Regions from separate parts of the Homo sapiens genome. Here all the other regions are reported to be linked to region 1. The links are microRNA targets in miRTarBase. Many come from high-throughput screens and were not tested one by one. Region 1 holds a microRNA gene; each other region holds the end of a gene's coding sequence.

Region 1 (3,133 bases):
CCTTTGCCATTTGGTTAAAGATCCTGTGAAATGAATAAGTGGACTGAATCCCCACTTCCTTGTTTGGAAATTTTAGGTTCTTTGCAATTGAAACCAAAATGTCTGTGTGAATTCATTTAAAAAGCAGATTTTCTTTTCCACAAAGGATTTGGGGCTGTTTGGGGCTTAATTATTATGTCAGGTGATCCAGCTTTAGTCCAGATGAGGACCCTTTGTAAGAAGCTTTGCCATGAGGGCAGCAGCTTCAGCGGAGGGTCAAGGTCCTTCTGAGCTGGGAGGCTGAAATGGAACACATGTGGCTCTGAGCCAGTGAAGTGCTTTCTTGGGACTGCCCTGCTGTCCAGGAACTGAAGCTGGGTTCAAATGCTGACTGTCATTCTCTGGGCATGTGACCATGGCCAAGCTAATACACATGATGAGCCTCAGTTTCTGCATCTTTGAAAGGGTGATCATTGTGAGTATTTTGCAGAGGATTAAATGAGATAAGACTGGTGAACCACCCCCACCACCCCCCTCAACCCCCCGGATTTTTTGGCCTCATAGCTTTGCTTCTATGCATGAAGTGCTGAATGCCATTTCTGGTACTGACTCAGATTCTTCATGTGCCAGTCTGGGTACTGACTTGTGGAGTGGATAGTGGTTGAGGGAAGACAACTGGGGGTGGGAGGAATGGGAGAATGTGAGTGTCGAGGGGTGGGCTACCTCTTGGGCACTGGCAATTACATGACAGTGGAACAGCATTGCAATTTAGTTTTGTGTTTTTCATTGTAACCCAACTGGCAACAGAACAGTGATGGGAGATGGAAAGGGTATCAAATTTGACTAGTGAGTTGCCCCTTTTGGTCCCTTCCTTAGAGTAAGCCTCAGTTTCTTCATCTGCAAAATGGAACTATCAGTGCCTTCTCTGACTACCTCGCAGAGTTGCTGTGAAGAAAAAGTGAGATAAAAATGTACCTGAAAGCATTTGTAAAATGTAAAGTGCTGTATAAATGTAACTGATTATTGTTTCATTTAAAAGACATGGTTTTGTTGATATCTCATGAAAAACAGTGCTAGTCCTCCCATTTAGTCATGGCGACAACCTTTTTGTCATAAATGTGCATGGGAGAATCGTTGGTTAGTAGGTGTTTTCCTTTATCCAAGTGGTCTGAGCTGGAAAATATGGAGAATTCCTTCACTAAAGGGCCATATCTTTTGACTCTATTGACAGCATGTCATGTGGAACTCAAAACTGCCTTCGTGAATGCAGATAGATTGCATCTATTAGCTGCCTCTTGTCATCATGACCTGCCAGAAGGGAAAATAAAATGTGCCTACAAATATTTCAATATTTATGTTGTGTGAAGGTTTAATATTCATTTGGAGCAGTGAATGGGGAAAGAGAAAAAAAAGTCCACATCCTTTACTTTGGAAATTGCTCAGTTCAACAAGAATTTATTGAGTACCTACTATGAGCTAGTGAGTGAATGATATGCTAGTGTCTACCAAAGAAAGACACCAAATTCTAATATTGACAACTTCATGTTTGCATACTTTGTCAGAAGCCTTGGAGAATCCCAAGGTCAGGAGTCTTTGCTCATTCCTATGGGGGAACTGATGAAATCTGCCCAGAGGTTGGGGAAGAGGGAAGTAGGTGAAATGGCTGCAGAGGAGAGGTGTTTGTAGTAAAATTGGGGAAGAGAGGAGAGTGGGAGGGGGTGGATCAGACCTCAGAAACACACTCCTACCTGTTAGGATGTAGGTGTGTGCTTGCACTTGTGGGTGGGACCAAGAGACAGGTGTCAGTAGCCTGGAGTTATAAAAACCAAAATGCATTGAATAATTGGATGGGAAACCACACATAAGAAAAGGACTCTTAGCAAGTGTATTTTTTCCAGCAATGCAAAAGTGAATTTACAAGCATATTGTTGTAGCTGTGAAGGGGCAAGCTCTACTAAAGGGATAGATGGTACATGAAAATAAGTTGTAAAATGTTGTTAATTGAAGAATATGTTGATAATTTGTGTCACTGATATTCAGTGTTTTGAATATGTTGTCATTGTCATTTCTCATTATGTAAAAATATAATAATTTTACAAGTTCACTGGTGACTTCATTCCCCTAACCCTATTTTTTCCCCAATAAGGTCCTAAATTCCTGAAGCCTGACTTCTCCTGCCCCAGGGGTTTTCAGAAACCTAACCCCCATGGTTGGCGAGGGACTGCTGTGTGTGAAATGGTAACTGCCCTCAAGGAGCTTACAATCTAGCTGGGGGTAAATGACTTGCACATGAACACAACTAGACTGTGAGCTTCTAGAGGGCAGGGACCTTACCCTAGTCATCTCTCTTCTCACCCTGCACACCCTCCCTGAGGGATCTCATCCATCCCCATGGCGTCAACCACCACCTGAGGACCCTCTAGGCCTGAATTGTCTCCTGAGTGCCACACCCAGCTCTCCAGCATCTTCAGTGTTCCTCCCCGGGTGGAATGCTCCACAGCACTGCCAACTCAACCTGCTCACCAAAACCCAGCTTGTCATATCTCCTCTGGGCCAGCCCTGGCTTCCAGGCTCCTGGACTTGGTCCCCCAGATCAAAGATCCAGGGGTCACTCATTTGGACTGAGCTTGATGGAAAAGTGCTTATGTTTCAATGTTAAGTAAACTGGGGAGCCTATCAAATGTATAGACATGATGAACTCATTGATGTTAAGTACATAGATGGAAAGAGAAATGCTTCAGAATGTATTAGTGGTTGCCTCTAATGGTAAAATAATGATTGACGTTTTCTTTTTCTGACACCCTTGTGCTTTCCAAATCTCCTGCAAAAAGTATTTATTACTTTTGTAACCAGCAAAAATGCCTAATAAAAATGATTGACAGGTCTCCATTTGAGTGTCACCTTTTCTGGGAATTATTGTTTATTCCTTTGCATCTCAAAGAGTCTGAGGCTCCGGGGTTAGACAGCCTCAGCACGTGTGCTTACCCTGTTGGGGAACTTGTTGCACTGTGTTCTTTCTGTAAATCGGCTCTTCCATTAGTCTGTGAGCTCCGAGAGGGCAGGAATCATGGTTATTCATCTCTCATTTCCAGTGCCTAGCACAAGGCTTGCATACATAACTGCTCAATACATGCTTGTTCTTTAAAGGAAGAGA
Region 2 (3,133 bases), not on the chromosome of region 1:
AGAGGGAGAATCAAAGAATCATTAGTACTAAGAAATGGGAAATGACAGCAGCGTTTTAAAAGAGTGGCAAGGTACTAAAGGTAGAAACACGATGCAAACTGCATACTCAAACCATAGCTGCCCCAGAATTCCCTTACAAGGGGAGTGAGATTGGATTACTCGGGAGGAAACCCTGTAAGCATTTGTGCGGTCATGTGCTTTGAGCTCTTCAAGATGCACTACAGTCTTTGGGTATAAAAGAATGCCACTCCCGAATCAACTTAAAAAGAACAGATCTTCAGCCTGGGAGGGGGCAGGGGATGGCTGCAATTCAAACAGTTCTATAAACATCTCTGGGCACATGAGGACTGTTGAGTGAAGCATTTTCTTGGCAGCTGTCAGCAAAATCGCCATCTGAGACACAGAGAAAGAGAAAGAGAAAGCAGGGACCACCTTCAGGCCCTTGTGATTTGGGAACAGGAAGCACCAGGTGGAAGCAGCACAGACGCGCTACTAACCCTACCTACGAACCCTACCTACGAACCCTACCTACGAACCCTACCTACTAGCCCTACCTACTAGCCCTACCTACTAGCCCTACCTACTAGCCCTACCTACTAACCCTACCTACTAGCCCTACCTACTAGCCCTACCTACTAGCCCTACCTACGAACCCTACCTACTAACCCTACCTACGAACCCTACCTACGAACCCTACCTACGAACCCTACCTACGAACCCTACCTACTAGCCCTACCTACTAGCCCTACCTACTAACCCTACCTACTAGCCCTACCTACGAACCCTACCTACGAACCCTACCTACTAGCCCTACCTACTAACCCTACCTACGAACCCTACCTACTAGCCCTACCTACTAACCCTACCTACTAGCCCTACCTACTAGCCCTACCTACTAACCCTACCTACTAGCCCTACCTACGAACCCTACCTACGAACCCTACCTACTAGCCCTACCTACTAACCCTACCTACGAACCCTACCTAACCCTACCTACGAACCCTACCTACGAACCCTACCTACTAACCCTACCTACTAGCCCTACCTACGAACCCTACCTACGAACCCTACCTACGAACCCTACCTACTAACCCTACCTACTAGCCCTACCTACTAACCCTACCTACCAGCCCTACCTACGAACCCTACCTACGAACCCTACCTACTAGCCCTACCTACTAGCCCTACCTACTAACCCTACCTACTAGCCCTACCTACGAACCCTACCGCGCTTTCCGGAAGCAAAGGCTTCAGGTACCACTGAGGAGCTCGATCTCTAAGAGCAAACACAAATGTGGTCCAAAGGCAGGTGATCACAGCACAGGCCCTGGGACGTCTACAGTGTGCAGGCAGCCACTAGGGCTGACCCGACCGGGCAAGAGGGCTGCTCGGTCCCTCCCCCGCCCTCCTGATCCCTGCACGGGGCACACATGGCCTCCACACAGCTCTCCAGTCACGCAGCACCCACACAGTGCCTTCAGAGCGGAGCTGAGACGGCACAACCAGGATCTCCATGCCTACCACGCACACAGTTGACAGCCGCGTGGGGTTTGGCATGAAAAACACGGCCTCTGCTGCACACAGAAACACGTGTTGCATGTCCTTATCGTGGAGGCCATCCCCTATGCAACTTCTGGACAGATTCTCAAATAACCTGCTTTTCCCATAAAAAGCTGAAAAAATAAGGGCCTGTACCAGATAGAGCAGGCTTTAAAATCAGGAATTAAACAAAATGTAAAAGGCAAACAAATCCCATATTCTGATTTGCTTCTGTGAAGATTCCTTCATTACTCAAACTAAGTTTCCACTCACCCCGTCCCCCCAGCACCCCCACCGTCATGCACACATGCACACACACAGCACATGCACACACACACACGCATGAGTCCACAATTCCCATGTACAAAGAAGCAGGACTCCTACATGCCACACGCCACCCTGAAGTGGATGCGAGAGCTGCTGCTTAGCTACTAATAAAACCCCATGGACAGTGTCAAGTGGCAAATGCGACTTGCTGGTTCCAAGACGGCCTCCTAGTGGCTGGAACTGTCTGGGCTCTGAGGACAATGAGCCACCAGAGGGCACAGAGGAGATGGCCTACACTGGGCTGGGAGCTGACTGCAGGTGAGAGGGGCGACGCACGGAAGGAAACGGGAAGAACCCCCCCACCCAAGTTCACATACAGAAAAATCCTGCTCTAAAAAGTATCAAAAAGATTTGAAAAGGAGGAAAGAGAAAGTAATGTTTAACGATGGCAGCATTTTCCTGGAGTCACCAGGAGTCCCTGAGAGCCCCTCCTGAGCCCCCGGCCCCACTGCAGGACAGTGGGTGGTGTGGGTGTGTCTGGCCCTGGGACAAGGTACTCCGCAGGCAACCTCTGAATCCTCAGAGGATAAGGACCTCAAGGGCTGGCCCTAAGTCCACAGACCATCTTGACTGGCGGGAAGCATGGGGGCCGTGAGGCGGCGTGCGGGCCATGAGGCAGCTTGGGGGAAGCGAGCTGGCAGCTTCCGTCCCAGGTGAGGAGGGGCCATCTCTGGAGGATGTCACAGGAATTCATTCACTAATGGACAATGCGGAGTTCGTTGGAAAAATTTTTTGCATCAATATCTGAGACCACGTCAATCCTTTAATTGGTACAGAAACTACTTTTCTTTCAAGAGAGCCCTTGCGCTCTGGTTGGATTTTGTGCACAACGTATACAAAATCTATGGCTATTGAGTTAAGTTAGGATCAGAGTTAAAACTACCTGCCAAGGTAGTTTTGGGATCAAACGACTACGTTTACCATCTGAGAGCTATTTGCTATCTAGAGGTGAGAGGAGTCTGTACAATGTCGCCGCTGGGTGGGCGGGTGCAGCTGGCTGTCCGAGGAGGGGCGGCCGTCCCCTCTGCACACTAGGTGCAGGCAGCGCGGCACTACCTGGAGATCATGGAGCTGGAGTGGGACTGGCTGGAGGAGGTGGTGGCGGCACTCAGCTGGGAGAAGCCGCTGTGGCTGGACTCCAGGCTCGTCATGGAACCTCTGTAATGGCACAGGGAGGGGCGAGGCGTGAGGACCACCCTGCCAACCACCCGCCGGCCCACACTGCCTGCTGGACTTCGTGGCCCACCCTGTTCTCTGCTCACTTCTC
Region 3 (3,025 bases), not on the chromosome of region 1:
CGCTGTTCTTGTAACAGCCCAGAATCTGCTGGTGGCTGCCTTCAATCTTCTCCTGCTGGTGCTGGTGCTAGGGACCATCTTGCTACCCGCTGTCACCATGCTGGGCTTCGGCTTCCTCTGCCACTCTCAGGTGAGCGTGCGCCCCGGGGTGTGCGTGTGAGTGTGAGTGTTGGTGTGTGGTGATGCTGGCGGTGGGGTCTATGGGCCACAACTTCAACCCGCCTGGGCTGTTTCCACCCCGTGCACAGTATCGCCTGGTCGGCTTGGGCCTGACGCCTCTTCTCCCACAGTTCCTGCGCTCCCAGGCACCCCCTTGCACCGCGCACCTGCGGGACCCCGGTTTCACGGCCCTACTGGTCACCGGATTCCTGCTCCTCGTGCCGCTGCTCGTGCTTGCTCTGGCCAGCTACCGCCGCCTCTGCCTGCGCCTCCGCCTAGCCGATTGCCTCGTGCCCTACAGCCGAGCCCTTTATCGGCGTCGGCGCGCCCCGCAGCCGCGGCAAATCCGGGCCTCACCAGGGTCCCAGGCCGTTCCCACATCAGGAAAGGTCTGGGTCTAATGACCCTCGAGTCAAGAACAACCCTGACGGCTGCCCTCCCTCTTATTCGGCCCAAGGACTTGAAGCCCGGCATCTTCCGACCTGCCCTGCCCCCACCCCTGCCTGAGCGGAGTCCTAGCATCCCCTTGGGAGCAGCAGCGTCAGTGGACCCAGTGCTGAGAAAAGCCCCCACATCCCGGAAAACCCACTTTCCTTTCACGACCCACATCTCAATCCTGAACATCTAGGCTGGAACCTGCACACCTCCCCCTCAGCTCCGTCGTGAATGGGACAACAATCTCGTGCCCTCGTTTTATGGTGCAGCTTCTCTAGTATTTCTGGGGCTGGGGGGCGGGGCTGGAGGGGAAGGAGTGTCCACGCATCAATAAAGATTTAACGAACTGAACGCGCTCTGCGAACAGAGGCGTGGCACAAGTACTATCACCCCTGCCCTGTGCCGAGGAACAGGAAACATGTGCCAGGGCTACAAATGAGCAGAGAGGAGCATCCTTGAGCCCCCTGGCCTTATCGCTTTTGTCCGTTCTTCCTGGCCAGACCTCAGAGATCTGTTCCTGACCCCAGGCACCTCCCCCTCAATAGAGTGGAGGGGCCCAGCCTCGGCCGCCTGCCGCTGCTCCCCTTGGGGACCTGAGCCCGTTCTCTGACCCCAGCTTAGAGGAACTCGGTGTTGCCAGGCCGGGGTGGGAAACAATGGGCCTTCCGGAGCAGGATGACACCCCCTCCCGCCACAATTCTGGAGCAGCAGCCGTGGGAGGGAAGATGCAGGGGCCCACCCTGGGGCCTGTTGGTCCGTCATTCAGCCCTGCCCCCCATCTCTACCCCTGAACTTGAGAGAACCTTTGGCACCCCTGGACATCTTGGTTGGGAGAGGAGGGTTGAGGGTGCTCCCGACTTCAGATGAGCCCTTTCCTCTAGGGATGGGGTGTGCTATCCTGCACCGGCATCCCAGCTACACACAGACACAGGCCCATTCGGTCATAAGTTTAATGAAGTCTGAAAGGTAAGCGCCATCGTGGTCAGAGATACGGAGGCCCGGTCAGACTCTCCCTCTGCACCTCAATGGAAACGATGTGGTGTCCGGGTACCATGGCCAGGCCCAGCACACGGGGCTCCCCGGCAGAGAAGGAATCTGGAAAGAAGGATCAGAGCATCAGGAAAGTAGGCCAGAATCAGTCCCGCCCCTCTGAGCCACGAAAACGAGCCCCAGAAAACAAGGGTTGCAGCCAGGCCCTTAAGGGGAAATGCCTTGCGTAAGGTTCCGCCACATTACCAGGCGGGTGTGCATTCCCCGGGCACTGACCCGACGGCTTGAGGAACTCCTGCGCCGAGCCCAGGATGACATTGCAGTCACGGTCAGTGCAGAGGAAGCAGCCGACCAGTGTCCGTCCATCTGTCATGCGAATGCGCATAGTCTTGTTGAGCAGCGCCTCTAGCTGCTGTCGGGCGCGCTCAGCCGCCGAGTCCTCGCGCTCTCCGTCCGAATCCTGCGCGGGGTGTAACAAGCGCTCAGACCGCGCAGCCCAGGCTGCCCGCCCGCGGAACCACAGCTCCCGGCAGCCCGCGGGGCACTCACACAAAGCCCAGAGGCTGCCGGGAGCTGCAGTTCCCCACCCCCTCCATCTTGCTGCTTGACTGCCCCTCAGTCCCAGAACCAGAGCCCGTGCTAACCCCAGCACTGGAGCTGCTCTGACGCCGACTGCAACAGCCATTCTCTTCTCGTAGCAGCATGGTCGGTCCAGCTCCGGCCATTTGCCCGGAGGCCTCCTCTGGGCCTTTCAACTTCCTAAGCACCTTTCAGGTTGGGTGGTCCGAGATCTCGCGAGCGCTCCCGACCTCTTTCCTTTCGCGAGATCCCCTCTCCTCCCCCTCCTAGTCTCCTCGGCAACGGCACAGATCTCGCGAGCTTCTCCTACTTCTCTAGCGCTGTGGCTCACTGAAGCGTACTACGCCGGATGTCTTAAGATATCGCGAGACCTTTACCTCTGGTTTCTTACACATCCTTTAGAAACTGGAATTTAGCGAGAATACATTCTTTCATACTGCCTCCTCCCTTGTTTTTCTGTCTCAGAGAGATAGTCTGTCCTAAATATCCCATGTAGCCCAGGCCACTGAATTAAAACGGAGCGTATTCGTTCTCTGCCCCACCCCGCAACTCCTGAAAGCGGCGCAACTCAATTACTTGATCCTTATATGCCCCACGCGGGACTCATACTACGTTTCCCGTGAACACGTGCAGTCCAAACCCCGCCCCTGATATTTATCTCAGTGGACGGTGGCCGGAAAAGGACAATGGTTTCCATGTCAGCGGATAAACGCTCTCCCCTCGGCTCCCGGACGCGACGGAGGTCGTAGTAGTAGTGAGTACGTGCTGAGGAGCAAAGGAGTAACCAAGAGATCCAGTGACCGACAGAGCAAGAGCCATGCCGCGCCGGGGCCTGGTGGCTGGGCCAGACTTGGAGTATTTT

Evidence for each region. Region 1 holds the annotated microRNA hsa-miR-708-5p (AAGGAGCUUACAAUCUAGCUGGG, at 2,230-2,252, shown strand). A microRNA usually pairs through its seed, bases 2 to 8, with sites in the 3' UTR of a target mRNA and lowers its output. Matches are read on the target gene's strand: a 7mer-m8 pairs with bases 2 to 8, a 7mer-A1 pairs with bases 2 to 7 and ends in A, and an 8mer does both.
Region 2: the mRNA of SEC14L1 is a reported target of hsa-miR-708-5p. Seed matches in the 3' UTR shown: 7mer-m8 at 1,264-1,270.
Region 3: miRTarBase lists TMEM88 as a target of hsa-miR-708-5p. The part of its 3' UTR that is shown has no 7-base or 8-base seed match.

The regions. Positions count from the first base shown.
Region 1 is chr11:79,401,196-79,404,328 of GRCh38, reverse strand. It overlaps MIR708 (microRNA 708), which reads left to right and starts at 2,220; the gene lies at 2,220-2,307. All of the region lies in intron 1 of TENM4 (teneurin transmembrane protein 4), which reads left to right.
Region 2 is chr17:77,213,809-77,216,941 of GRCh38, reverse strand. SEC14L1 (SEC14 like lipid binding 1) reads right to left here. Exons shown (of 17, transcript NM_001143998.2): 17 at 1-3,024. The coding sequence ends at 2,919. Among named protein-coding and RNA genes, the nearest start is that of LACAT1, 38 kb to the left of the region's middle.
Region 3 is chr17:7,855,155-7,858,179 of GRCh38, forward strand. TMEM88 (transmembrane protein 88) reads left to right here. Exons shown (of 2, transcript NM_203411.2): 1 at 1-130; 2 at 291-945. The coding sequence ends at 560. NAA38 (N-alpha-acetyltransferase 38, NatC auxiliary subunit) reads right to left here and starts at 2,405. Exons shown (of 3, transcript NM_001320925.4): 1 at 2,229-2,405; 2 at 1,861-2,044; 3 at 1,531-1,689. The coding sequence starts at 2,309. The coding sequence ends at 1,577. It overlaps CYB5D1 (cytochrome b5 domain containing 1), which reads left to right and starts at 2,849. Exons shown (of 4, transcript NM_144607.6): 1 at 2,849-3,025. The coding sequence starts at 2,981. RefSeq lists enhancers at 831-1,368, 1,490-1,569, 2,102-2,964, 2,220-2,589, 2,317-2,611 and 2 more.